Homo sapiens: one gene and its partners. The protein of the gene in region 3 purifies or fractionates together with the protein of the main gene of each other region. This does not show direct contact. Each region holds a gene or a part of one and is shown on either strand. Other genes may lie near its edges. The genes, in order: THNSL1, NDRG3, FXYD1 and ATP6V1D.

Region 1 (7,023 bases), on a different chromosome or scaffold from region 3:
CAGAGATTAAGGTATACAGGAGGATGTGCACAGGTTATATGCAAATACTACACCATTTTATATAAAGGACTTGCACATCTGCAGATTTTTCTCACTCTAAAGTCAGTCCTATTAACTGCTAATTATCCAATATCCCTCTCAATGCTTAATCCAAATAATTGTTAAACACATGAAAGAGAAGAGTGTCAAGACCAAAAGCCTTGGAGTGCACTACCAGAAATTTCCCTCTATTCAACAGAACCATTTTTATGATCATTCAACAATATCCTCAAATCTTTTTTTTCCATTTCTCCGTGAATTAAAAAAATTTTAAATGAACCATGTGTAATGCTTTGGTGAAGTCCATATATATGCCTTCTATGTATATTCCCGAGTGGCCATTGCAGCAGACGTTCTCAAAAAAGAAATGAGGATGTCTTTTCCTCATTTGGTTGGTTAAAAAATGTTGAGCCCCTAAAATCAATTTGTGGTTAAATGTTACAAAATAAAATTTAGTATGTAGCTTAAAATAGAATATATCTTTATTGTTCTTTAGAAATAATATATATTATAGCACTTAACTGCCTTCTGCTAGTCTAAGGAACATGTTTGTGGGAAATAATATTGATACAGAATTTACAAATTGAACTGTCATAATTTTCTTTAAAATATATCTATATCTATATCTATATCTATATCTATATCTATATATATCTACCCCAAAGTCTTGAAAAAGGGAAGTGAAGTAAAATTTAAAAACAAGAGGGTAGAGGGGAACTAACATATAGGAAAAGTAAGATTGCAAAACATAAGGTGAAGGTAACATAATGTTTCCTTACAATCTACTTTTAATGAAGTTGATGTTAAGCATGGTAGCAAGCAATATAAAGCGGAAGAAAAGATGAAAGATTTACTGGGCCAGTATGGTGGTTCATGCCTCTAATCCCAGCACTTTGGGAGGCCAAAGTGGGAGGATTGCTTGAGTTCAGGAGTTCGAGATCAGTCTGGGCAACATGGTGAAACCCTGTCTCTAGAAAACCTACAAAAATTAGCTGGGTGTGGTGATGCACACCTGGTGGGAGGATCACCTGAGCCCAGGAGGTTGAGGCTGCAGTGAGCTGAGATCATGCCACTGCACTCCAGCCTGGGTGACAGTGGAAGACCCTTTCTCAAAAAAAAAAAAAAAATTACTGCTCATGAAAACCATCTACTCAGATTATATACAATTATTACTAATACAGGTATCAGAAAGTTATGTATTGCAAACTCAAAAAGAAGAAACTGTAATGTTACAAGCAAAAGCTTCCTGAATAGGAGGTTAATCAGACTGTTTTATGTAAGTGCCCTAAAAGCAGTTTGTGCTTTTAAAGTCCAGTACCAGAATATGGTTTAATAAAATAAATTGATGTTATGGTTCAAGTATATAATTCTTTCTGGTCCCTGGTTTACTTCAGGGAAAGGATTAGACTGTGCATGGCAAAACAGTTCTTGATTCGTGGGTGAACACCACGGTATTCTCTGAAGGTTTATAAACCAAACCATAAAAAAAATGCACCCTGCCTTGTACCTACATATTTGGGTTCAATTTATATATTCCTAGCCCACTGTCAGTGAGTGACAATGATTAATCTTACTGTAAATATTTTGTGCTAACCACTATGATATGTGCTTTGATTTTATTATAGACACTTATATAGCTAAGAGGTATCTTTTTGTGGCAAGAGTTTTATTTGGGCTTTTTATAGTGGATATTATTACATATGAATATATAGTGATTTTGATAGATAATATAGCCTAAAAAACAACTCAGACACTAATTTCATAGCTTTAGTCTGCTGACTTTTTCCCCTCTGATCATTATACAGCCAAATCATTAAAATTCCAGATATCCTTCTGAAAAGTTTTATATTTGTTATTATTTGGTTTTTTATTGCTTGATGGTAGAAATTCCTTCAGTACTGTTTAGTGAAATTCTTTTTATAATGAGACACACATGTTTAAAAACAGTATTTTAATCTTCTAATAACAGATTTGGGGAAACATATGAAAAGGGTCAATTTTTCTGTATTTTTAAAATTTCAGATGAGCTTTTCAAATAATAGACTAGTCTATGTGTAGAATTTTATGATACTCTATACAGTTATGATTAACTTAAATTTTTTTCCATTATAGACTCCACGTTTTGCAAAGATCGGTTTTGCCTCAGAGTCAACAAACTCTTCAGATTGGTTCCGGTGTGTCCTATGTTTACAAGTCAGTGGAAATTAAGCACAACACATATAAATTGAAAAGTCAAATAAGGAAATGAATTACCTCCCTTGACGGCTCTAATTTTACTTGTAAGTTAAATTCAGAGTTAGCTTAAAATCATTTAAATGTTTAATTACAGAACAGAGTTTAAGTAGCATAGAAAGTCAGTATTACATGATTAAAAGTTTTCAGAACATATTTTAACATATGATCTAGTATTTAATATGGTTTAGTTGCATATTGCTTCTACCAGAGAACACGTGATAAGCCCCACTATGTGTCTGTGACATTACTTCAGGCAATTTACATGAACATTGCACAGGTATTATACTGCATTTTACGTAACTAAAAACTTGACTTGTCTGGCATACATTTTTGTTTTAATGGTGAGTATATTTCCAAAGACAAGGACTTGGTCAATATGGGAAATTATAGAGCTTCTTTGGATGCCAGAATAATTGTTGTCTCTCATCATTGGAAACATTCCTGAGGTTCTTGGCTGTGGCCCTGGGGTCTGGAAATTGAGTTAAATCTCTCCACTGATGATTATAGGGTTAGAAACAAAAGTGATGGTTCTGTGCAGATAAGGTTATATGTAGCCTTTGACCTCATTGCTGATTATTAATTTTTCTTAACTATTTGTATAATATACCTTTCACCTTGGCTCTTTTTAAAGCCTTCAATATGAATAATATGTAACAATGATTCTTAATATGCGTGTAAAAGGCACATAAGAAAGAAAATGTCATACCTTTGTCCTGTAGTTTGGAAAACTAAGCATTTTATAAGCAAATATGTTCTTTTATTCTGGTTTCCTGTTATGACTTCTATAAGAAATTTATGAGTAATATAGTCTGTCACAATGTTCATATAACTGAAGAGAAATTAAATATAAAGAATATTGTTCAACTTTTGTGAATTGCAAGTAGATAGCACTCCAACTCCAAATCATCTTTATATGTGATATAAACTGATAAACCATGAAATAATTTTCATTAAAAGATCTCAATATGAAAAGAAATAGTAATTTGATTTAGTGTATATATACTTTTAAAAGCATCTACAATCTGGCACTTTGTGAATACAAGTTTCTGTTTTTTATAGTTACAAATTTTGTCAAAGTTTTGATTTTTCAGTGTCTTGAGATTTTAAAAGATATCATTAAAAGGATAATATGCAATATATAAGAATTTGGGTTGGAATACTTTTTTTAATTCCATAAGTTTGGAAGATTTTTAAACAGTTTATGTACCATGGGCATGGTTATATTCAGTCCTATTGGGATTTTAACAATCTACTGTAATTAGTAACCAAATTATCTTTTGTTGTTTTTTGTTTGTTTTGTGTTTTGAAAAGGGCTAAAGCCAATTTTTAGGTTGGCTTGGGCAGAAAAGTGAAAAGAGAATGCTCCACTTTAACCGATGTCATCATCTGAAAAAGATAACACAGAAATGTTTTTCTAGTATACATGTTAAAACGGATAAACATGCACAGCGATTTCTTTCAAGAACCTTTGCACTTGCGGAATTGAGGAAGTCATGGTATTCAACCCACTCTCTTGTTGGAGACAAAAATATTATCCTGATGGGACCTCCTGGTGCTGGGAAAACAACAGTAGGCAGAATAATAGGTCAGAAACTAGGTTGTTGTGTCATAGATGTGGATGATGATATCCTTGAAAAAACCTGGAATATGAGTGTGTCTGAAAAATTACAGGATGTTGGTAATGAGCAATTTTTAGAAGAGGAAGGAAAAGCTGTGTTAAACTTCTCTGCATCTGGAAGTGTGATTTCCCTTACTGGGTCCAATCCAATGCATGATGCTAGCATGTGGCATCTGAAGAAAAATGGAATAATTGTATACCTGGATGTACCTCTACTAGATCTAATTTGTCGTCTAAAATTAATGAAGACAGATAGGATTGTAGGTCAGAATTCTGGAACATCTATGAAAGACTTACTTAAATTTAGAAGACAGTATTATAAGAAGTGGTATGATGCTCGTGTTTTCTGTGAAAGTGGGGCTTCCCCAGAGGAGGTAGCTGACAAAGTGCTGAATGCAATTAAAAGATACCAAGATGTGGACTCGGAAACATTCATTTCAACAAGACACGTTTGGCCTGAAGACTGTGAACAGAAGGTTTCAGCAAAATTCTTTAGTGAAGCTGTAATTGAGGGGTTGGCTTCTGATGGTGGCCTCTTTGTTCCTGCAAAGGAGTTTCCAAAATTAAGCTGCGGGGAGTGGAAAAGCCTAGTAGGAGCAACCTACGTAGAAAGAGCACAGATACTGTTGGAAAGATGTATCCATCCTGCAGACATACCTGCTGCCAGGTTGGGAGAAATGATTGAAACTGCTTATGGGGAAAACTTTGCCTGCTCAAAAATTGCTCCTGTCAGGCACCTTTCAGGCAACCAGTTCATCCTGGAGTTGTTTCATGGACCAACAGGATCATTTAAAGATTTGTCTTTACAGCTTATGCCTCATATTTTTGCACACTGTATCCCACCAAGTTGCAATTATATGATACTTGTAGCTACTTCAGGAGACACAGGGAGTGCAGTCTTAAATGGTTTTAGTCGTCTAAATAAGAATGATAAGCAAAGGATAGCTGTGGTTGCATTTTTTCCTGAGAATGGAGTAAGTGATTTTCAAAAAGCACAAATAATTGGCAGTCAGAGAGAAAATGGATGGGCAGTGGGTGTTGAGTCAGATTTTGATTTTTGCCAGACAGCTATAAAAAGAATTTTTAATGATTCTGATTTTACTGGCTTTCTTACTGTGGAATATGGAACAATCTTAAGTTCGGCTAACTCCATAAACTGGGGCCGACTACTTCCGCAGGTAGTTTATCATGCTTCCGCATATCTTGATCTTGTTAGTCAAGGATTTATTTCTTTTGGAAGCCCAGTCGATGTCTGTATTCCCACAGGAAACTTTGGTAACATTTTAGCAGCAGTGTATGCCAAAATGATGGGAATCCCGATTCGAAAATTTATCTGTGCCTCTAATCAGAACCATGTTTTGACTGATTTTATAAAAACAGGACATTATGATCTAAGGGAAAGAAAACTAGCACAAACCTTTTCACCGTCAATAGATATTCTCAAATCTTCAAACCTAGAACGACATTTACACTTGATGGCTAATAAAGATGGACAGCTAATGACAGAATTATTTAATCGATTAGAAAGTCAGCATCATTTCCAGATAGAAAAGGCTCTAGTTGAGAAACTTCAGCAGGATTTTGTAGCTGACTGGTGCTCTGAGGGAGAGTGCCTAGCAGCTATTAACTCCACCTATAATACTTCAGGGTATATTTTGGATCCACACACTGCTGTTGCAAAAGTGGTTGCAGATAGGGTGCAAGACAAAACTTGCCCTGTGATTATCTCATCTACAGCCCATTACTCAAAGTTTGCACCTGCTATCATGCAGGCTTTAAAGATTAAAGAAATCAATGAGACTTCATCAAGTCAGCTCTATTTGCTGGGTTCATACAATGCATTACCTCCACTGCATGAGGCTTTATTAGAGAGAACAAAACAGCAAGAGAAGATGGAGTACCAGGTCTGTGCAGCTGATATGAATGTCTTGAAGAGTCATGTGGAACAACTTGTCCAAAATCAATTCATATGAAAGCTTTCAGAGTAAATTTTTTTTTCTAGCTATAAGCATGCAATAATAAATCTCAAACACTGATTTGGAGTACAGTAGCATTTTGTCTTTTATGTAAATATCTCTATATCTGTTTGGAATTTCAAAAGTCTGATCTCTAGGGCTGACATGAGAACTCCATGTCACCTCCTCAGATCTTTAATCTGGAAGTGACAAAAGGTAACACAGTGCACGGACCTTTGAGCTATCATACTTTTGCCTTCTGCTCATGAGGGGTGTATCAATTTCCACTCCCACACCCTCACTGTTATGTGGACCAAAATGTCTGGTATACTATTTGGCGATTAAAATATTTAAGCCCAGTTTTCAGGTACTACATCTGTAACTAGTGAATACTCTGTTGATTAGAAAGTTAATTTACCACTCAAAATGGCTAACTTGAATGGAGGAAGTAGTAAACTCTTCTATTAGGATTTGGGCCAGTGTTTTTTGTTTGTTTTTTGGTGCAGTTTCAGCTCACTGCAACCTCCGCCTCCCAGGTTCAAGTGATTCTCCTGCCTCAGCCTCCCAGGTAGCTGGGATTACAGGCATGCAACACCACACATGGCTAATTTTTTTATTTTTAATAGAGATGAGGTTTCGCCATGTTTTCCAGGCTGATCTTGAACCTCTGACCTCAGGTGATCCATCCACCTCGGCCTCCCAAAGTGCTAGGATTACAGGCGTGAGCCTCTGCACCTGGCTAGGGCCAGTGTTTTTAACCCTCCTCAAATTCCATTTTGGACTACAACTAATGTGTATCTCACACTGTCCAAATTAAAGATGTACTCTGTCCTTCACTCTCCTTTGGATGTGTACGGTTAGGGTGACGATGTTTGAAAATCAACACATAACTGAAATCCAGGATGAAACAGTAAGCAGAACTACTTAGAAGTGAATACAGAAATGATCTATTTCAAGAGGAAGGTTTTCCAAAATTAAGAGTACTTGAGTAGTCTCAATAGGAGTGTATTTGTAGACAGCAGTTTCCCTATATTATTTGGAGTCAATTCTTACGTAATTTGTTGTTTATTTCTTCAGTGAACATTGTCTTTTTCTGGCAGCTGAAACTGCACACAACTGATACACATATTTAATTTGTATTCCTTTGTAGTAATACATTTTAACCATGATTTATGT
Region 2 (7,318 bases), on a different chromosome or scaffold from region 3:
CTCAGACTATCCTACTGCAACATGCAAATGAAAAGTACCCTGTACATCGAAATAGCATATACCAACTCCACTGTAAACAGGCATTTTTCCCTGCTCAGAAGTAACAATTTAGAATAAAACAAAAGCAGCCGGGCTCGGAGGCTCACGCCTGTAATCCCACCACTTTGGGAGGCAGAGGCAGGCGGATCACCTGAGGTCAGGAATTCAAGACCAGCTTGGCCAACATGGTGAAAATCCGTCTCCACTAAAAATACAAAAAATAGCTGGGCATGGTGGCGGGCGCCTGTAATTCCAGCTACTTGGGTGGCTGAGGCAGGAAAATCGCTTGAACCCAGGATGCGGAGGTTGCAGTGAGCCGAGATTGCGCCACTGCACTCCAGCCTGGGCAACAAGAGCGAAACTCCGTCTCAAAAAATAATAATAATAATAATAAAACAAAAGCAGCTCGGCCTGGCTTGGTGGCTCACGCCTGTAATCCCAGCACTATGGGAGGCCGAGGCAGGCGGATCACGAGGTCAGGAAATCGAGACCATCCTGGCTAACACGGTGAAACCCTGTCTCTACTAAAAAAATACAAAAAAAATTAGCTGGGGGTGGTGGCGAGCACCTGTAGTCCCAGCTGCTCAGGAGGCTGAGGCAGGAGAATGGCGTGAATCTGGGAGGCGGAGCTTGCAGTGAGCCGAGATGGCGCCACTGTACTCCAGCCTGGGCAACAGAGCGAGACTCCGTCTCAAAAAACAAACAAAAACAAACAAAAAACAAACAAAAAACAAAAGCAGCTCAATCGTGAGTGCACGTTCAAGTAACATAAACAAGCTTTTTTTTTTTTTTTTTTTTTGAGACGGAGCTCTGTTGCCCAGGCTGGAGTGCAGTGGCGCGATCTCGGCTCACTGCAAGCTCCAGCTCCCGGGTTCACGCCATTCTCCTGCCTCAGCCTCCCGAGTAGCTGGGACTACAGGCGCCCACCACCACACGCGGCTAATTTTCTGTTATTTTTTAGTACAGACGGGGTTTCCCCGTATTAGCCAGGATGGTCTCCATCTCCCGAACTCGTGATCCACCCACCTCGGCCTCCCAAAGTGCTGGGATTACAGGCGTGAGCCGCAGCGCCCGGTCCATAAACAGGCTTTTTGATGCAAGACTCTTATCTGCAAGTTTTCAAAAACAACAGGGTGGATGGAGGCCTTTGAGTGGTAAATGGTGATGACAAGTTTAATCTGAAGGAAGAGACAAGCAAAGAGAAACTGAAGGGCAGGAAGGAGGAACAGAAGGGCACCAGAAGAACACCACGCTTTGAGTAATGAAAAGGGGGGGTGGAAATTAACTGAGTCCTTACCAAGGATCTACTGTGAGCCAGGCATCTGGAGCTGCAAAGATGGACCATGCCCTCAAGGGGCTAGAAGTCCGCAGGGTAAGACTGAGGCTAAGACCCTGTTTTGTGAACGTGTAATTCTAATTGGGAAAATCAAGCAGGGAAGGCTTCACAGAGAAGGTGGTGATTTAGTGGAGCCTTTGAAATGTGGAGGAGGATTTGCTAAGGGAGAAAAACGACAGTTTGAGCTAGTTATTTTGGGGGAGAAACATTCACATATTTTTATAGCTGTTCATTTGGAACTTTAAATCATGGGAGGCTTCTTAAATTCAGCACCACTCTATCAATGTTCTCTTTCTCTTCTTGCTTTATCTTAAATACTGAAATGTTCAAGCCCAACCTTGGGGCAAAGGCAGAAAGCCTCGGACAGAAAGCCCCGGAATGAGGTGAGTGCTAGCCAAATCTGCTCTGTCACCTCCAAGTCCAGCCCGCCCAGCTAGCCCAGTCAGCCCAGTCCTGCTCTCTTGGCAGGAAAGGAAGGCTAATAATATCCCCTGAGGGCCAGGGTAAGGGGGGGGGGGGGCGCGGCGGGGGTGATCTGGATGCCAGCAGGCAAGGATCACTCTTGTTCTGTCAGTAAGCCACCAAAGGAAAGCTTCCCTGCTTCCTAATCCACGGGGCTCCTAGTCTACCTGTGATAGGGAGGCCAGCTCTGCAGGAAGAAAAAAAGGGCTTCATGACAAGGAAGGGGGAAGCATTTGGATTGGGAAGTGCAGAGGTGGTTATGCGAGGTTATCTTAATAAAATGCTTAGCAAGATCCCTGGCACACAGCGAGCGGTGGAAGAACGTTAGCTCTTATATTAATAACACTATTATTATTACAGTAACACCTCAATTGTACTCCGACAACAAGAAAATCTTTTTTGTGCAGCCTACTTTTACGACGTTCGAGAGCAACTTCAGAGATGACAAGTGATTTCAAAATTTTTTCAAAGGTACGAGATCAAATTCCAACCGCACTGGCCTGAGAGCCCGAGACCCTGAGTTGAGAGCTGACCCTGCCACTTGTCAGCTGCGTGACCTTGGGCATGGCACTTCACCTTTCCGTGCCTCAGTTTCCTCGGCTGTTAAGTGGGGCTAAGAAGCCTCTCCCCGGTAGGGTAGTCGTAGGGTCCCGTTAGAGGATGCCCTCTGCTGCTCTGGGGCCGGACGGGTGCAAGGGCTGCTCACGGCCCCTCTTCCAAGCATCTGGGCTCTTGGAGCGGGCGAGGTAGATGGATGAGCAACCCCAAGGCCCACCAAGCTCTGCCGCCTGCAGAGCCAGAGCGAGAGAAGGGTTCGCGCCTGCGGGGGGCGTCCCTGTGACCCAGGGTGTTGAGCCCGGAGGGAGGCTCTCTTGCTACCCACACGCTGTCGCCGGCGGGCTGGGCGCGGGGAGCGGCCGAGGAAAGCCGGGCTGACCTGGGTCCGGCGGGCGGGCGGGGCGGGGCAGAGGGCCCCGGGGGCACGGGGGAGGCAAGCAGCACGGGCCACCAGGGCCTCGCCGTGCCGCGGAGATGATGCGGGGAAGGAGCAGGGCAAAGGAGCGACGCCCCCGAATGCGGCGCCGCGCGCCCCCCGCGGGCCGGGCGGAGGCGCTCACTCACCTGAGGCGCGGGCACCCGCCGTCAGTGCAGCAGCAGCGGCGGCGGCGGCGGCGGCGGCGGCGGCGGCGGCGGCGGCGAGAGGGGCGGGGGAGGTGCTGCGGTCCGCGCAGGCGCGCCGAGGACGCCAGGGCGGCGCATGAGTGCTGTGCCCGTCCACCTCGGGAACTACCGAGAAGATGGTGGCTGAGCCAGGAGAGGCCGGCGGCGCCATCTTTGATGTAGTTTTTCTTGCTGCGGAGTTTCCTCAGAGAAGAATCTCAGATTTTGGAGGCGCTGGGCGGCAGGGCCATTGAGCTCTGCGTCTGGAGCGCTTCCCTCAGTTCCCTGAGTCGCATCCTTATGAAGCCCCTAAGAGCTCTTGCAGGGTATGGCATCCTCCTTTTAAGGTGACCTAGAGCCATACCCAAGGTCACAGGGCGCCTAGCACAGTGCTCGGCACGTGGAAAGAGCTTAGTAAATTTTTGGTGAATGAACATAGTAATTTAAGAACTAGAGTCCAAGACTCAGGGCTCCGAATTACCAGTCCTCCATTGTATCACCCCTATTACAACCGTCAGCCAAATCATCTACTTTCTTGAATGCAACATTAGAGATGGAATTTTTTTTCCCAGAATGATTGCAGATATTAAACTTAATGACCCAACAATTTAACACCAAAATGTACAGGACACACTCTTCCTCTATTTATTATCTATTATTTCTTTACCATTAAGTACCACTGACTAAAAGTTTTTTTGTTTTGTTTTGTTTTGTTTTTTGAGACGGAGTCTCACTCTGTCGCCAGGCTGGAGTGCACTAGCGCGATCTCGGCTCACTGCAACCTCTGCCTCCTGGGTTCAAGCGATTCTCCTGCCTCAGCCTCCCGAGTAGCTGGCACTGTAGGCGTGTGCCACCGGGCCTGGCTAATTTTTCTATTATTAGTAGAGACGGGTTTTCACCGTGTTGGCCAGGATGGTCTCGATCTCTTGACCTCGTCATCTGCCCGCCTCGGCCTCCCAAAGTGCTGGGATTACAGGTGTGTGAGCCACCACGCCCTTTTAACCCGAGCCAGTGTCGCCATCTCGGCTCAGGTTCCCAAGTCCCTCAGCCTCCCAAGTAGCTGGGACTAGAGGCGGGCGCCACCATGCCTGGGTAATTTTTGTATTTTTTTTTTTTTAGTAGAGATGGGGTTTCACCATGTTGGCCAAGCTGGTCTCAAACTCCTGACCTCAAGCAATCCGCCTGCTTCTGCGTCCCAAAGTGCTGGGATTACAGGTGTGAGCCACCACGCCCGGCCACTAAAAGCATATTCTTTTAATTAAGGCAAACTGAACAAATGAATATTACCAAACATCTCAGAGGGCAGCAATAATATTGTTATTCATCAAGCACAATTCTTGAACTGAATTTAGTTGGAAGGAAAACTAACATTAATTGAGCACAGCCATTTATTTTATGGTTTATGTTCGTTAACATTTACTGAATTCAAATTAGTTCTAGTTCACCATCCACTATTTATCCCTATGTCCTTGGTTAGACAATTAAGTCTCTCCACACCTCTCCATGCCCGAATTCCTCATCTATGTCACACACCCAGAAATAGAAGTTACAAGGTTGTGGCAAAGACTGAATGATAATATGCATGTAAAATGCTTAGAGCTCAGTAAGTATTATTTTTCTTTGTTCTATCGTATTTTACTGTTGAAGACACAAAACATACTTCTTGAGTTTGAAGAAATCCTTATAAGCAAAAAATGCAATACAATGTAATAAATAAAAAGGGGGAGGGTATAATCATCTTTAGAGAGATAATCTGTCCCCATTTTACAGATGAGGAAATTGAGGATAAAATGAAAATTCATGGCCGGGCGCAGTGGCTCACGCCTGTAATCCCAGAACTTTGGGAGGCTGAGGCGGGCAGATCATGAGGTCAGGAAATCGAGACCATCCTGGCTAACAAGGTGAAACCCCGTCTCTACTAAAAATACAAAAATTAGCTGGGCGTAGTGGCGGGTGCCTGTAATCCCAGCTACTCGGGAGGCTGAGGCAGGAGAATGGTGTGAACCCGGGAGGCAGAGCTTGCAGTGAGCCGAGATTGCGCTGCTGCACTCCAGCTTGGGCAACAGAGCGAGACTCCGTCTCAAAAAAAAAAAAGAAAAAGGAAAATTCACTCCAACTCTCTCCATTGTACTACTTTGTTTATGAAAGAGTAGGCAATTAAGAGCATTTCTCTGATTCTTGAGATACAGATAGAGATAGATATAGACGAGGGTCTCACCATGTTGCTCAGGCTGGTCTAGAACTCTTGGACTCAAGCAATCCTCCTGCCTAGGCCTCCCAAAGTTCTGGGATTATAGGCATGAGCCACTGTGTCCCGCTCTGCTCTGATTCTTAAATGTTGGATTTCCATGAGACCATCCAAACTTTCCCTTCTTGCTCTACTGTGGACTATATCATTCATTCTCAAGTCATCAAGAACTAGACATCAGCAACTCTCAAATGTTATTTCCAGTCTCGATTTCTCCACCCAGTTCTCCACCTGTGTTATTTGACAGACCAGTTGATTTCTCCATTTGGTATTCCAAATAGAACGAGCTTTCCCATCTCAAATTGCTCCATCATCTACCCACTGTTCAGGCTTCACCTCCTGCAGCATACTGATACCGCTAAACTTTTATATTATTTAATTCTTACAGCATCCCTGTGATATAGGTTCTATAATTCTCTCAACCTTCGAGATAAGAGATTAAATAAATTTTTCAGTCACAGTTAATAAATGGCAGAGTTAGGGGTTTTTTCTTTTTGAGACAGAGTCTTGCTCTGTCATCCAGACTGGAATGCAGTGGCACAATCTCGGCTCACTACAACTTTCACCCCCTCCCGGGTTCCAGCAATTCTCCCACCTCAGCCTCCTGAGTAGTTGGGATTACAGGCACCTGCCATCATGCTTGGCTAATTTTTGTATTTTTGTAGAGATGGGGTTTCACCATGTTGGCCAGGCTGGTCCTGACCTCAGGTGACCCACCCACCTCAGCCTCCCAAAGTGCTGGGATTACAGGCATGAGCCACCATGCCTGGCTAGAGTTAGGTTTTTAACACCTAGGTTACATGCCTATGTTCTAGCCACTGTGGGCAACACGAGCAGTCCCACCCCACTCATCCACTGCCAACACCCAGCACAAGCTGTCATTTCTCTCCTAGACTCCTGCAATAACCTAACTGGTCTCCCACACCCATACCTTGCTATCTTTTCCCCACACCACAACTAGAGTACTCTTTTAAAAATAAAGTTCTGATCTTCTCGCCCTTTCTTGAAGCCTTCTAATGACTTTCAATTATACTTGTCTCAGGCCAGTCTTCTACTGGTGCCCAGCACTCCTGCTTTATTCTTTTTTTTTTTTTTAAGTGTCCCAGCATGCTCCACTGTCCTCCTCAAGCCTTTGAAAATTGCTTCTCCTTTTGCCTGAAATACTTGCCCCATTTAACTCCTTCATCTTTCCCATGTCAGCTAAAATATCTCTTCTGCAGAGTTTTCTCTTGTTCCTTGTATCGTCAGCAAACTGAGCATCATGAGAGAGAACCCATGTGTTTTTGCTCTTTGCTCCCTCCTCCAATCCTAGAACTGTGTGTGGCATATGGCGGGTACTCGGTAAATATATAAAGGAATAAAGAACAAATGTAGGTCCAAGCAAGGAGATGTCATTTCTCATTAACTGGCACTTGCGCCAAGGTTTAAGACTTAAGATTATGACTGGGTGTTTAACTGAAATGGGATTTGTCCCTTTAGTGGGATCAGAGAATAAGAAACATTTTATTTTGGCTGAGCACAGTGGCTCACACTTGTAATCTCAGCATTTTGGGAGGCTGAGGTGGGTGTATATCTTGAGTCCAGTTTGAGACCAGCCTGGGCAACATGGAGAAACCGCATTCCTACGAAAGTACAGAAGTTAGGCCAGGCACGGTGGCTCACGCCTGTAATCCCAGCACTTTGGGAGGCTAAGTTGGGTGGATCACCTAAGGTCAGGAGTTCAAGACCAGCCTGGCCAACATGGTGAAACCCCATCTCTACTAAAAATACAAAAATTAGCCAGGTGTGGTGGTGCATGTGTGGAATCCCAGCTACTCGCAAGGCTGAGGCAGAAGAATCACTTAAATCCGGGAGGCAGAGGTTGCAGTGAGCCAAAATGGCACCACTGCACTCCAGCCTGGGCAACAGAGGGAGACTCTGTCTCAAACAAAACAAAACAAAAATTAGTCAGATGTGGTGGTGCACACCTGTAGTCCCAGCTGTTTGGGAGGCTGAGGTGGAAGAATTGCTTGAGCTCAGGAGGTTGAGGGTCCAGTGAGCCATGAGCATGCCATGGCACTACTGCCTGGATT
Region 3 (7,551 bases):
CTCCTGGGCCCCAAATGCTGTCCCTGCCCTCTGGGGTTTCCTTCTGCTCCTTCCCAGATGCCAGCACCCCTCTTCAAGGCATCCCGACAGGCTTTGCTGCCCATCTCCTGAGATCCTGATGGGCCCCTGTTTCCCTGGAGACCCGGCACCACATCCCAACCTCTGGGGTCCCAGGACTTCCGTCCCCACCTTCGGGCATGCAGAAGGCTGGACACTCACAGTGACAGCAGGGTCGGAGAGAAGCTGACGGGCAGGTCCGGGGAGCCCTCACACAGGGCGCTGTCTTTAGAGCAGGAGCAGCGCAGGGGACACTTTCCCTTTGGGGGTCTCCAGGCCACCACCACCCCCGCCCCAGCCAGCAGCAGCAGCAGAATGCCTGCCCCTCCCATGCCCCCACCCCCACTCTGAGGCACCCGCTTCTCCCGGCCCACCCAGCTCAGCCCAGGCCACTACGTCTCCTCCTCCACCAGGCCGCCCTCCATCCGCCTGCTGGCACGCTCGGCCCTGGCTTCTCTCTCCTCTTCTCCGTCTTTCTTTCAGTCGGCCTTCCTCCCTGTTCGTATGTCTTTGGTGTCTAATTTTCTGTTTCTCTTTCTCCCTGTCTTTCTGTCTCTGTATTTTTGACTCTGTGTGTTAGTCTGTTTCTATTTCTGTCTTTGTCTCTCTTTCTGCCTGTTTCTTTTTTTCTGTGTTGCTGTCAGTCTTTCAGGCTTTAGGTAGCTGTCTATCTGTTGGTCTCTATGTGTGTGAGTGTATGTGAGTGTGTGTGTGTCCTGCTGCCTGGTGTCTTGATTTCTTGTCTCCTGCCCCCCCCACCCCCCCTTCCAGCTCCCTGCCTGTAGTTTCTTTGCCTCCTCCCACCTCCCTTCTCCCCGAAGGTTTGGGAAAGGGGTTCGCTGGACACCCGGCACACCCGGCAGAGTAGGATGGGAAGGAGGAGGGGGTCAGAGGCCATGAGAAGGTCGGCCTTGGGGGAAGGGACTGGACAGCCCCACAGGAGGGGGAGGGGCCACCAAGGGCTGGAGCCGCCCCACCACTCCCGCCAGCCCCCTCCCCAGATTCCCCACTCAACCCTATTGGGGGAGCAGGAGGACGATGTCACCAGGGTGGGGACCAGATGGCTCTGCATTCTGGAGCAGGGTGGGAGGAGAGGCCCTGGGGGGGCTGGGGACATCCCGTCCTGGCCACTCTCTGCCAGCCCCCTCCCCTGGCTACAGGAGGGTGTGTTGGGCGCTGTCAGTGGGGCCAGATCACGTCCAGCTGCTCCCTCTGGTGGTCATACTCGGCAGGACCTCTGCCCGGCCCCAAGCCCTTAGCCTCCCTCCCCTACCCTGAAATTAACCCTCTAGTGGCCAACACCCACTGGGGGACAGCACCAACCCGAGGACATGATGATGATGAAGATGATGATGATGGTGAAGATGATGATGATGATGCCACCCCTTCTTCAGCGTCTACTCTGAGCCTGGCCTTGTCCTAAAAGCTCATCTATTAACTCATTCTGATCTTGCCAAAGCCCTCTGAAGTTAGTGCTGTCATCATCACCACTTTACAGCTGGAGGAAGTGGAGACAGAGGTCAGGGAACCTGAACTCTAGGTTACCCAGCTGAGGGCACAGCCGGGATTCAAACCCAGGCATCCGGCTCCAGGTTATTTTGCATTCTTTCTTTGGAGATCAGAGTTCATGGATAGATGGATAATTGGTTGTTTTAATCTGGACTAAATTTTAGTCATTTGGATAGATTCTGTCCACTAAATAAGAAACATAAGTAAATGACACTTGTTAGCTAAGATGAAATAGTAGTAATGTTTATACTCACTCAGCCTTCACAGCCACCCTGTGAGATGGGCAGTACTGCTATCCCTGCTTTACAGATGGGGAAACTGAGGCACAGGGAAGTTATGTGATTAGTTTCCTGGCTCTAGTCAGCTCTAAACCTAACCCCTAGGCTGTACCACCTCATCGCCTGGGGACGAGACTCATCCTGTGATTGAGGAATGCATGCAGCCTCTCTTGACACTGACGCCCACGCCCAGAAGCCTCGTTGGAGGATAAGGGGGCTTAACAGCTTGGAGGTCATGCAGATCTGGGTTCCAGGCCCAGTCCTGTGTGGCCTCAGTTTTCCCATCTGTCAAACGGGGACAATCGTGGCACCCGCTTCCCAGTTGTGGAGAGGACTCAGGTGATGGAGGCAACTCATCCTTTTGGGGTTCAGCACAAGGTGGGCATCCCACAGTGGTCGGCAAGCTTGGGGGTGGGCTCCGGATCCAGCTCCTAGAGGAGCAGACCCCAGCAGCTTGTGGTTTGAGCCATGCCCGTCAGCTCTCAGTTTCCTTCACTGACTATTGGGTATGATAAACAGGGTCCCTGAAAGTGAAGTTGGAGAGCTGAGTGCCAGGGGCACAGAGGGATCTGAACCCACTCTCATAGGGTGCCCAGCCCAGCAGTCCAGTTCACAAGGAGGAGGATGACAAGGACAATAATAATAGGCCAGGCACGGTGGCTCATTTCTGTAATCCCACATTTTGGCAGGCTGAAGTGGGAGGATCGCTTGGGGCCAGGAGTTCAAGACAAGCCTGGGCAACATAGAGAAACCCCGACTGTACAAAAAATTAAAAAATTAGCCAGGCATGGTGTCGCACGCCCATAGTCCCAGCTACTCAGGAAGCTGAGGTGGGAGAATCACTTGAGCCCATGAGGTTGAGGCTACAGTGAGCTATGATTGTGCCATTGCACTTCAGCCTGGGTGACAGAGCAAGACCCGGTCTCAAACAAACAAACAAAAAATGAAGTTAATCATAAGACAATGTCAAGTTCAGAGACCTCTGAGCCCTGTCCAGGATTATACACGTGATCTTAGTGATTTTTCCATTTTGGAGCATGTGAAAATGAGGCACAGAGCTGCTCAAGTTCACACAACCAGGAGTGCAGTGCCTGGGCCATTCCAGGTTTCCCTGTCACCAGGACCTGTAAACCTGGCCTGCCCATGGGGACGCCAGGTGTGTTGTCCCCGACAAGAGCTCAGGGGAAGGAAAGTGTGGGGTTAAATACATATCTGTGGTTTTGGAATGTGTGAACATGCAAGTGTGTCAGCCTGCGCATCTGTCACCGTGGCCAACCATGTGCCTGTTTGCTCAAGCATAGGGTGTGAACCAGTGTGTGTGTTTCTGCTTTTGTGGGTATGTGTGAGAGCGGCGGGTTGTCCTTGATGGTGTTTCTGCTTGTGTATCTGTGCCCATGGAAATCTGTCTGTGTGTACACAAGCTTGTTGGCCTTCCTATCTTTGGGACCATGTAGGAGTGCTGGCTGCATGTCTGTACCTTTGGGGTTTTTTTGTTTTGTTTTTGTTTTTGAGACAGAGTCTCGCTCTGTTGCCCAGGCTAGAGTGCAGTGGCATGATCTCAGCTCACTGCAAGCTCTGCCTCCCGGGCTCAAGTGACTCTCCTGCCTCAGCCTCCGGAGTAGCCGTGATTACAGGCGCACGCCACCACACCCAGCTAATTTTTGTATATTTTTTTAGTAGAGACGAGCTCTCGTCGGGTTGGCCAGGCTGGTGTTGAACTCCTGGCCTCAAGTGATCCTCCCGCCTTGGCCTCCCAAAGTGCTGGGAGTACAGGTGTGAGCCACCGTACCTGGCCATGTTTGGCCATGCATCTTAGAATGCATTTATGTGCGGTGTGCACATACTTGTGTGTTTCTGTATGGCCATTTGTGGGTGGGTCTTCACATAAACATGCATTTTTGTGGCCAGTTTGTGAGTGTAGATGGTGATGTGGCTATGTCTTTGACTGTATCTCTGTGTGGCCATCCATCTACATGAGCGTGCGTGGGTCTGTGTAGACATAAATGTGCTTGTTCTGGTATTTTGTGACTGGCATAAAAGGTGTTGGCTGTGTGTCCGGGTCTTTGGGTTTCTCTATCAGTGTGTCATTCTGTGTGTGTCTGCTTCTATGGATGTACATACATACATGGTTTTGTCTGGTTTTGTACCTGTATATCTGGGTCTTTGGGATTGTGTGTGGGTGTGTGTGTGTGGTGCATTTCTGGGGATCTCACCACAGCAGATAGCGCACATGCGCGCGCACACACACACACACACACACACCTCCCTCCCGTCCTCTAAAACAGCCCTGTTAAGGACCTCACGGAGCACTGGGATCGGGGGTCAGTGGGCTCCTGGGCAGTCAGGCTGGGTGACCTTCGGCCCTGGCTGGACCCAGTTCCCAGGGGGCAGCCGCCTCAGCCCAAAAGCTCTTGGAGGCGTGTGTGTTTGTGTGTGTGTGTGTTCACAACCCTGTCCTCCACAATCCTCCTAGCCTCTCCAGCCTGCCTGCTGGCTGCCTGCTGCTGCTCTCTCTGAACTGAGAGAGTTAACCAAGCGGGCCAGGGCAGTCTGGGCTGGGGGCCGCCCCCTGGCCCCCCTCCAGCCCCAGCTCCAGTTTCAGCTGCTGGTTGGGGAGGGCATGGGTGGGGTGGGGCTGGGAGGGGAGGCTGCTGGGGGCGGCGCGTCCAGCTCTGGGCCAGGGGGTCCAAAGTGCTCAGCCCCCGGGGCACAGCAGGACGTTTGGGGGCCTTCTTTCAGCAGGGGACAGCCCGATTGGGGTGAGCGTCCCCCACTCCTTCCCTCCAGGCCTCACCCCTGGTCTGGCTGGGCCGCCTATTTTGGGAGCAGGAGTGGCCAGCCCGAGGCTTCCCAGGCAGGCCAACCCAAGAGGGAGGGAGTGTGGTTGAGGCAGTGGGTTCTGCAGGGTGGGATGTGGGTGACTCCTCCCTGCCCTGCTGGTGCGTGTGCACCCTGGCAGGGTGTGGAGTTGGGACACACACGTGTGTAGGGCTGGTTGCGTCACTGCGTGGGGGCACCGGAGGCCCAGAGGAGGAGTATTGGATGCCTGACGGTGTTTACACCCCACGTCCTGCTCCAACCAGCAGTTTGGGGAGAGGTTGTTGTTCATGTCCATTCCGGCCCCACTGTGTGTGTGTGTGTGTGTGTGTGTGTGTGTGTGTGTGTGTATCCCTGCCCCAGCATGTGTTTTCTATCTCTAAGGCCCACTGGGCTGGGCCTCATGTCACTTGCCTGACATCCGATTGTGAAAGATGTCACCCAGAGGCGGGCAGAGGGGCTGTCTTTTCCTTTTCTCGTTGCTGCCCAGGGAGGAGACGGGGTGACCTTTCCCACAGGGGCAGCCTGTGGCGATGTGGCAGCTGGGCCTCACCCCGGCAGGGCTGTGCGTGACCCCCTGAGTGGGGGAAGGCAGGCTGTTGCCATGGTGGCCTGAGCGAGCAGAATTCCTCCAGGGTGAAGTGGGAGATATTTATACCCGGGGTCAGGCCGCGAGCGGGCGGGCGGAGAGGGCAGGGAGCTGGGATTTCGCGGGGCACAGTGAGGCCGGGCATGTAGGCAGGTGGGACTTGGGCGTGCCCTGCTGTCTCCTGCTCTGTGTTTGTGTGAGGCAGCGCCTCCTCTGCCCTGCCAGGGTAGGTCTGGGAATCGGGGGCCTGCTGCGGGAGGTGGAGGCCCAAGGGAGGCCCCCCGGGGACTGTGTGTCTCACCCCCGTCCCTGCTACGTTGTGTTGTTGTGTGATCCCATCGTGGAGGTTGTTTTGGTGACACTGTGTCCCCACGAAGCTGGGGATACCCGTTTCTCTAGCTTGGAGCCACCAAGATAGAGGACAAACACTTCTGTGATTCAGTCCCCAGACTGTCTCTGACTTAATCCCTTGGGTTCAAGCCCTATGTGGGAGAGCAAGGGCACACACTGCCTAATCCGTGGTGTCCCCCCCAGGACAATGGCGTCTCTTGGCCACATCTTGGTTTTCTGTGTGGGTCTCCTCACCATGGCCAAGGCAGGTGAGTGCAGGGGAGGCTGCCCGCTACCCACCTCAGCCCCAGGGGTGGCGGTGGGGACCGAAGAACCAAGTTGGAGACCCCAACCTAGACTAAGTCGGCTGGGGTACCAAGAAGTTTGGGGGTCTCCACGTGGGGTCCAGTCACAGGCTGGTATTTGGGGGAGGGGAGAGGAAGCCCCAGATCAGGCAAAGATGGGGTGGGATGGGGCTGAATCCCCGATGGGATAACTGGGTCACAGACAGCCTGCCGTGAGTCAGGGAGCTGGGGCAGTTAGGTGCCACCTGCCCCATCTGGGACAGTGCAGAGGGGGCAGCTGGGACCCAGAGAGTGTGGGCAGCCTGCCCAGACACCCTCAGACTCTAAGCCCAGCAAGGCAGAGCCTCCAGTGGTCTCCTCATGCCCCTCCCTGCCAGGACCCCAGGAAGCATTCAACCCCTGATTTCTCTCTCTTTCCAGAAAGTCCAAAGGAACACGACCCGTTCACTTACGGTGAGCGGGGGGTCTAATTTTGAGTCCTGGGGGAGAGCCTGGCTTTGCTGGTCCTTTGATTCCCCCTCGCCCTCCCCCAGAGTCCCAGTATTGATATCTCTGTCATTCTCCTTCCCTCTATTTTGTCCTTCCTCTCTGATTCCACCTGTCTGCATCTTTTCCTGTCTGTGTCTATCTGTGTCACTGTCTATGTGATACCTCTCTGGTTCTCTTTCTCTTGCCTGCGTCTGTCTCAGCATCTCGTGGCCCATCCTCTGCTTCTTCCCGTCTTCTCTCCCCCCTGTCCTCCTCCTCCCTGTCCCCTCCCTCCCTTTCCTATACACCCCTTTCCTCTCCCTGGTACCCCACTTTCCTCCTCCCATATCTGCTCCCCCTTAATTATCTTACTTCCCCCCTTCTGCCTGCTGGTCCTTTCTCCCTGTTCCCTCCTTCCCAATTTACCCCTCTCCTATTCTCCCTCCTGTCTTCCCTGCCCTCACCTTCCCTGCTCTGCTGCTCACAGACTACCAGTCCCTGCAGATCGGAGGCCTCGTCATCGCCGGGATCCTCTTCATCCTGGGCATCCTCATCGTGCTGAGTGAGTGCCCCTAGCTCCCGCCCTCTACCCCGCCTCTCCCTGGCCCCACCTCTCTCTGGCCCCGCCTCTCCCTGGCCCCGCCTCTCCCTAGCCCCCCTCTCCCTGGCCCCGCTTCTCCCTGGTCCCGCCCCTCCCTGGCCCCGCCCCGCCCCAACCCCTCCCAGGCCTTGCCCCGCCTACCCTGCCTTGGTTCCCCGGCCCCCGGTCTCGCCTCTAGCCCCGCCCCGTCCCCCAAGCCCCGCCCCTCGCGAGGGCGAGCTGGAGCTACAGCGCCGCTTGGCGCCCGCCGGGAGGGAGCCTCAGCTTCTCCTACCTCTCCACGCCCACAGGCAGAAGATGCCGGTGCAAGTTCAACCAGCAGCAGAGGTAAGACGCCCCTCCCCGCCCTCCTTCGCCCGCTCCTGCTCTGGAGGGCGCCGCGGGTGAGGCGGGGAGTACCCCTGACCCGCAGCCCGATCCCCGTCAGCGACTATGTATTAAGCACCTACTATGTGCCATGGCCCAAGCCTGGCCCTGGGACCAAGCGAGGAAAAAACCTCCCGCCCTTCCTGGCCGAGCTCCCAGCCTAGTGGAGGCGGTGGCCGTGGGTTCCAACAGCCCCACAGATAGAAAAATCACAAAGCGTGATAACACAAA
Region 4 (7,023 bases), on a different chromosome or scaffold from region 3:
CACAGCTTGCATTGAATTTTCTAGCAGAGGGTGGAGATCAATCAATAGTGTATAAGTGGTATGTGAGTGTTTTAGGGTGGTTATGGGGAAGATACTTTCTATAATATTTATTTTTGTTTTGTTTTGAGATTGGGTTATGAGACTGGCTAATTTTTGTATTTTTGAGTTTCACCACATTGCCCAGGCTGGTTTTGAACTCCTGGCCTCAAACAATCCTCCTGCCTCGGCCTCCCAAAGTGCCAGGATTACAGGCGTGAGCTATCGCACCCTGCCAGGAAGGCACTTTCTGGTAACATTTGAGAAGTCACACAAAGCCAGATGGAACATAGTTTCCAGGGTAAAGGAATTGAACGCCAGCTTAACCAATTCAATAGCAAACCTAGAAAGGAGTTTTCTCTATCTCACACTAGCAGAAGAATCCTTAAAGTTATATCCATGTAGCACACCTCTGACTGAAAACATAAGCAATCCACGAACTTTAAAATCATTCTTTGTTCTTTTCTTACTGCTAATGTTTTGAATATTGTTCATTCTCTGCTTTCAGAGGCCCTCCTCTAGCAGTAATGACTTTTCTCCCTTTTTGGAAAAAGGACAGTTATCAAAACATACTTAATTGTGACATCTCACTCTTGGTCTCATTTAATGTTAAAACTATCCAGTGGGTCCCTGTAGGTTTATTTCTGAAGAGTCTGCTAAATAAAGTCTTTCTCTTTTTCTGCAGCACTACAGTTATCCAAAATGTCAATAAAGCGCAAGTGAAGATTCGAGCGAAGAAAGATAATGTAGCAGGTAACGTTTCAACCTTTTAGAAACCCTTTGGGGAGAAAAGAGGTGACATTTTAAAATTAACCTGTTTATACAGCAAGATCTTAATGTCCTAGTTTCTTCCTTCTACTTAGAACAAGTTGATTGGCTTTACATGTTAAAATCATTAACAACCAGGTTTCTAATTACTCAGGATAACTTGACTTTTGTATAGAAGTGAACACTTAAGAAGGCAGGTTCCGGCTGGGCACGGTGGCTCATGCCTGTAATCCCAGCACTTTGGGAGGCCGAGGTGGGCGAATCACAAGGTCAGGAGTTCGAGACCAGCCTGGCCAACATGGTGAAACCCCATCTCTACTAATAATACAAAAATTAGCCAGGTTTGGTGGCACGCGCCTGTAGCCCCAGCTACTTGGGAGGCTGAGGCAGGAGAATCGCTTGAACCCGGGAAGCGGAGGTTCCAGTGAGCCGAGATTGCACCACTGCACTCCAGCCTGGGTGACAGAGCAAGACTCTGTCTAAAAATAAAAAATAAAAAAATAAAGAAGTCAGGTTCCACTGGATGTGGTGGCTCACACCTGTAATCCCAGCACTTTGGGAGGCTGAGGTGGGCGGATCACAAGGTCAGGAGTTCGAGACCAGCCTGGCCAACATGGTGAAACCCCATCTTTACCAAAGAATACAAAAATTAGGCCGGGTGTGATGGCTCACACCTGTAATCCCAGTGCTTTGGGAAGCCAAGGTGGGCGGATCGCCTGAGGTCGGGAGTTCGAGACCAGCCTAATATGGAGAAATCCTGTCTCTACTAAAAATACAAAATAAGCCAGACGTGGTAGCGCATGCCTGTAATCCCAGCTACTTGAGAGGCTGAGGCAGGAGACTCACTTGGACCCAGGAGGCAGAGGTTGTGGTGAGCCGAGATTGCGCCATTGTACTCCAGCCCAGGCAACAAGAGCGAAACTCATCTTTAAAAAAAAAAAAAAATTAGCTGGGCATGGCATGTGCCTGTTGTCCCAGCTACTCAGGAGGCTGAGGTGGGAGAATCACTTGACCCCAGGAGGCGGTGGTTGCAGTGAGCTGAAGACCACACCACTGCACTGCAGCCTGGGCGACAGAGTGAGACTCTGTCTCAAAAAAAAAAAAAGAAGGCAAGTTCCTAAATTCATTAATTGAAACCAATTACAATTCCATACTTAAGCTCTTGATTTTTGAGTTTGATGAAAAAGAAACACAGAAAACAGTGATTAAGAAACAGAATTTAGGCCAGGCGCGGTGGCTCATACCTGTAATCCCAGCACTTTGGGAGGTTTAGGCGGGTGGATCACCTGAGGTCGGAAGTTCAAGACCAACCTTACCAACATGGAGAAACCCCGTGTCTACTAAAAATACAAAATTAGCCGGGTGTGGTGGTGCATGCCTGTAATCCCACCTATTCAGGAGGCTGACCAGGAGAATTGCTTGAACCTGGGAGGCAGAGGTTGCGGTGAGGCGAGATCACGCCATTGCATTCCAGCCTCGGCGACAAGAGCAAAACTCCGTCTCAGAAAAAAAAAAAAAAGAGAGAACTTAAAGGTTTATGAATCCATGTATGCTTCTGTGTTTAACAGGTGTTACTTTGCCAGTATTTGAACATTACCATGAAGGAACTGACAGTAAGTGTGAAACTTTTTGTATTACTTTGTGTCTCTGGGATTTCCTGTTTCCTCTTTAAATGAACTAAGTTCTGGAAAATGGTGCTAGATGTTGAGAGGTTCCTGAGTTAGAAATCCTCTTATTTGATATAGTCAGGACAATAGTTGATCAGTTAATCAAAAGGTCTTAAGGCCGGGCACAATGGCTCATGCCTGTAATACTGGCACTTTGGGAGGCTGAGGCAGGCAAATCTCCATCTCTACAAAAAATATAAAAAATCAGCCAGGTGTGGTGGCACGTGCCTGTAGTTTCAGCTACTTCCAGGGCTGAGGAGGGAGGATTGCTTGAGCTGGGGAGGTAGTTGCAGCGAGTTCTGATCACGCCACTGCACTCCAGCCTGGGCTACAGAGCAAAACCTTGTCTCAAAAAAGAAAAAGGTCTTATGCTAGGAAGTCATAAAACATTATACATATCTTAAAATATTTCAATATTTTATCAGAAATATATCAATGTAGAATCACTTGCTATTTAAAAAATATAAGGCCTTTTGAATATGAATTCACTGATTAGACTTCTGTGTTGTTTTTCTGCATATCCTACACCCACAATGCACTGCTTATAATTCCCAGTTTGGGTCTCTTTAAAGTCAAATAAGATCTTAGACACTGATGCAACCTGAATGCTGATTCTTTCTAGATTTTTATAGCCCACTTCCACTTTTTAAATAACTGTCTTATTCATTCCATTCCTAGTTTGACAGCATATTTTCTTTCCAAAGTAAAGTATTAACTTTTTTCATAGAAACAATATTCTTGGCCAGGCACAGTGGCTCACACCTGCAATCCCAGCACTTTGGGAGGCTGAGGCAGGTGGATCACCTTAGCCCAGGAGTTTGAGACCAGCCTGGGCAACATGGTGAAACCCCGTCTCCACCCAAAAAGTTACAAAAATTAGCTGGGCCTGGTGGCATGCGCCTGTGGTCCCAGCTACTCGGGAGGCCGAGGTGGGAGGATTGCTTGAGCCTGAGAAGTGGAGCTTACAGTGAGCTGAGATCGCACCACTGCACTCCAGCCTGGGTGGCAGAGTGAGACCCCATCTCAATAAATAAATAAACAAATAATATTCTTTCTTTTGGCACTTGTATTTCCTTGCTTCATGTGATATTTAATTAAATCATATAGAATATTAAGTACATTTCATACGAAGAAGTAGAGCATTCTAGAGAGAGTCACCTGTTCACAGAGTGTCATCGTACTCTGGGCATCAGGCAGTATGATTTTCAAAGGGAATAAGGGGCATCAAGCTAGTGAAGTGAAGGTTGGTTAAAAGCTTCCTTTGTAGTTATATTTAGAATAGTATTCTTGTGGGAAACTGTATTTAGTAGCATGCTCCTATAGTGTTTGGGGAGTGAGATAGGCACTTCATGTTTACATTCAATGAAGATTAGTGAATTCATCTTTCCATATTTGTTATTATTCTGAATTATCTCCTTTTGGGGAATTTTATAGGGAAGATATTTTACTCTAATTAAAAATGTTGTCTGACTGGTCCTTTCAGGTTATGAACTGACTGGTTTAGCCAGAGGTGGGGAACAGTTGGCTAAATTAAAGAGGAATTATGCCAAAGCAGTGGAACTACTGGTGGAACTAGCTTCTCTGCAGGTAAGTAGCAAAAGACCTGGAGAACTCCTGTAGTTTGATTTGTAACAGTCAAGTGGAGGAGAGTCAGGTCTTGAGTCAGCATATACTGTGCTTTGTACTTTTAACTGTTCCCATGATCCTATGTAAAGCAAACATAATATTTTGATTTCTGAAGTGATGGCTTTTGTACCATTGTCCCTACTTTTTAAAATTTATGTATTTTTTATTTTTTTGAGATGGAGTTTTACTCTTGTTGCCCAGGCTGGAGTGCAATGGCGCGACCTCGGCTCACTGCAACCTCTGCCTCCTGGGTTCAAGTGATTCTTCTGCCTCAGCCTCCCAAGTAGCTGATTACAGACATGTGCCACCATGCCTGGCTAACTTTTGTATTTTTTGTAGAGACAGGGTTTTGCCATGTTTGTCAGGCTGGTCTCGAACTCCTGACTTCAGGTGATCCACCCGCCTCGGCCTCCCAAAGTGCTAGGATTACAGGCATGAGCCACTGCACCTGGCCCCTACTTTTAATTTAAAAATTTATTTATTTTTCGAAATGGGGTCTCACTGTGTCACCCAGGCTGGAGTGCAGTGGCATAATCCCAGCTCACTGCAACCTTAACCTCCTGGGCTTAAGTGATCCGCCCACCTCAGCCTCCTGAGTAGCTGGGACTATAGGCATGCCCCATCACACCTAGCTAATTTTTGTATTTTTTGTAGAGGTGGGGTTTCACCATGTCGTCCAGGCTGGTCTCGAACTCCTGGGCTCAAGTAATCAGCCCGCCTCATCCTTCCAAAGTGCTGGGATTATAGGTATGAGCCACCACACCCGGCCCCTGCTTCTTCTTGTTAACAAAATGTATGTGCTATGGTACACTCTTGTTTTTTTTGTTTGTTTGTTTGTTTTTTTCTTTGAGACAGAATCTTGCTCTGTTGCCCAGGCTGGAGTGCAGTGTTGCGATCTTGGCTAACTGCAGCCTGGATCTCCTGGGCTCAAGCAGTCTCCCGCCTCAGCCTCCCAAGTAGCTTGGACTACAAGTTTGTGCCACCTCGCCTGGATAATATTTTTGAATTTTTTAGTTGAGATGAGGTCTTGCTACGTTGCCCAGGCTGGTCTCAAACTCCTGGCCTCAAGAAATCCTGCCATCTCAGCCTCCCAAAGTGCTGGAATTATAAGTGTGAGCCACCTCACCCAGCCCAGTTTCACTCTTTGCTAAGTAAGAATAGCAAGTTGATACTAGATTTAAATGTAAATGTAAATAAACATCGTTTGTGCATGGAAGACCATTTTTTCCCCTATGTGGCCAGTTAGTATATATCTAGGTTATTAATGCTTGATTCTTTCTTGTCATTTTTATGTTGTTATTTAGGTGAGACTATAGTAAACAAATTATAATAGTGTCAACTCAAGTAAAGCCTGTTGAAGCAGAAATGATTTGATAAAGGTTTATTGAAAGCCAAATGTGAGGATTGACCCGGGAAGACACCAACAAAGTTGGGTGTGTTCTAGAGTCTGCTACAAGTTGGAAGGCTTTTATGGGAAAGTTTAGGAGAAGGGAGGACTCCTCATACCCAAGTTGTCCTTTTCATTGGCGAGTACAATACAGAGGTCACAATCATTGGCTACAGATTACAAATACAAGCTAAAATGTTCTACATGCAAGTAAATCATGAAGTAAAACTTCATGAATCAGAAACAAATCAGTGTCATTTTCAGCGTCAGTAGGTTGCATATTAATCAGTATGTCAGCAGTCTGAGAAACTTAAGATTTCCTTACTCAGGGACAGGATGTAAACCATGAATCATAAGATCCCTCAATCTGCCCAGGCAGGTTAATTTGGAAACCTACCAAATGTGACATGTAGGTTATCAATAGCATGGAAATAGTGTTAGCCCTATGGAAATCTCACAAGAATTTTGTTTTTGTTTTGTTATGAAGAGACAGGGTCTTACTCTGTCACCCAAGCTGGAGTACAGTGGCACAGTAATAGCTCACTGCAGCCTCAAACGATCCTCCCATCACAGATTACCAAGCAGCTGGGACTACAGGTGCATGCTACTACACCCAGCTAATTTTTAAAATTTATTTCTTGTAGAGGCAAGGTCTCATTGTGTTGCCCAGGCTGGTCTTGAACTCCCAACTTCAAGTGATTCTCCCACCTCAGCCTCCCAAAGTATTGGGGTTATAGGCGTGAGCCATGCGCCCAGCCTAAGAATTTTGTTTTTTAAGCATGCCAAAAAGAAGTTGTCTTGGTTCTCAAATGTTTTCTACAAGTGCAGTCTTAGTGGAGTCAAGTGATCAGGGAATGATTAGGAAGACTTTGTGCTTACATTATTAATTTGTTCTTATTTTAGACTTCTTTTGTTACTTTGGATGAAGCTATTAAGATAACCAACAGGCGTGTAAATGCCATTGAACATGGTGAGTATTAGGTACTGTGAGGTGCTTTGTCACTTGTCCATACCCTCCACTTGTCGTGAAACTGCTAGAATTCAGGGACTGTACTGAAGACTGAAAGATGAATAAGATGCTTCCCTTGCCCACAGTGCAAAGAGAGAAGTGTGTCCATAGTAAAAAAAAAAAGTGTTATGAAGTGTTCTGATAGAAGTACTTGTATGATCTGGGGGAGTTACACACATAGGAAAGTGGTGACTTAAAAATTATGGAATGTTTTCTTCATTTCCAGTTATTCATGCAGTTATTTAAGGGTAGGAATATTTCTCAAGATCCTTAGTGTTTTCTGTAGTTCTTTCTAATGGTTGAGTGATGCAACTTTTTGAGTACATTAAATATTTAACTTTAAATCAGTATAAGCCATTCTCCTTGATTTCTAAAAAATTTCCCATTTGATGCACTTATTTTCCATCTCTTTTATTTCACTATTTAAAAAATATGACTGCTTAGTGTTGATGGTACTTTTTGCTCAATAAACTTAGTTTTTATTAAAGAAACACTCAATTTTAGGTAAGAAAGCAAAATTTGAAGTAAAG

Evidence for each region.
Region 1: the proteins of FXYD1 (region 3) and THNSL1 purify together in Homo sapiens (affinity purification with mass spectrometry; 2 studies listed by BioGRID and IntAct, with this or other methods). This does not show direct contact.
Region 2: the proteins of FXYD1 (region 3) and NDRG3 purify together in Homo sapiens (affinity purification with mass spectrometry; 2 studies listed by BioGRID and IntAct, with this or other methods). This does not show direct contact.
Region 4: the proteins of FXYD1 (region 3) and ATP6V1D purify together in Homo sapiens (affinity purification with mass spectrometry; 2 studies listed by BioGRID and IntAct, with this or other methods). This does not show direct contact.

Annotation. Positions count from the first base shown.
Region 1 is NC_000010.11:25,019,591-25,026,613, forward strand, and holds part of THNSL1 (threonine synthase-like 1), read left to right. Parts: intron 1-2,151; 5' UTR 2,152-2,318; intron 2,319-3,585; 5' UTR 3,586-3,633; coding exon 3,634-5,865; 3' UTR 5,866-7,023.
Region 2 is NC_000020.11:36,743,086-36,750,403, forward strand, and holds the start of NDRG3 (protein NDRG3), read right to left. Parts: upstream 3,006-7,318; 5' UTR 2,960-3,005; exon of another isoform or gene 2,414-2,959; intron 1-2,413.
Region 3 is NC_000019.10:35,134,292-35,141,842, forward strand, and holds the start of FXYD1 (phospholemman precursor), read left to right. Parts: upstream 1-4,532; 5' UTR 4,533-4,603; intron 4,604-4,843; exon of another isoform or gene 4,844-4,941; intron 4,942-5,130; exon of another isoform or gene 5,131-5,297; intron 5,298-5,342; exon of another isoform or gene 5,343-5,476; intron 5,477-5,627; exon of another isoform or gene 5,628-5,734; coding exon of another isoform or gene 5,735-5,788; coding exon 5,789-5,849; intron 5,850-6,305; coding exon 6,306-6,338; intron 6,339-6,840; coding exon 6,841-6,915; intron 6,916-7,244; coding exon 7,245-7,281; intron 7,282-7,551. Other genes in the region: LGI4 (leucine-rich repeat LGI family member 4 precursor), read right to left, coding at 220-389. UniProt on the Homo sapiens protein: Associates with and regulates the activity of the sodium/potassium-transporting ATPase (NKA) which transports Na(+) out of the cell and K(+) into the cell. Inhibits NKA activity in its unphosphorylated state and stimulates activity when phosphorylated.
Region 4 is NC_000014.9:67,342,803-67,349,825, reverse strand, and holds part of ATP6V1D (V-type proton ATPase subunit D), read left to right. Parts: intron 1-721; coding exon 722-789; intron 790-2,372; coding exon 2,373-2,417; intron 2,418-3,954; coding exon 3,955-4,058; intron 4,059-6,387; coding exon 6,388-6,454; intron 6,455-7,023. UniProt on the Homo sapiens protein: Subunit of the V1 complex of vacuolar(H+)-ATPase (V-ATPase), a multisubunit enzyme composed of a peripheral complex (V1) that hydrolyzes ATP and a membrane integral complex (V0) that translocates protons.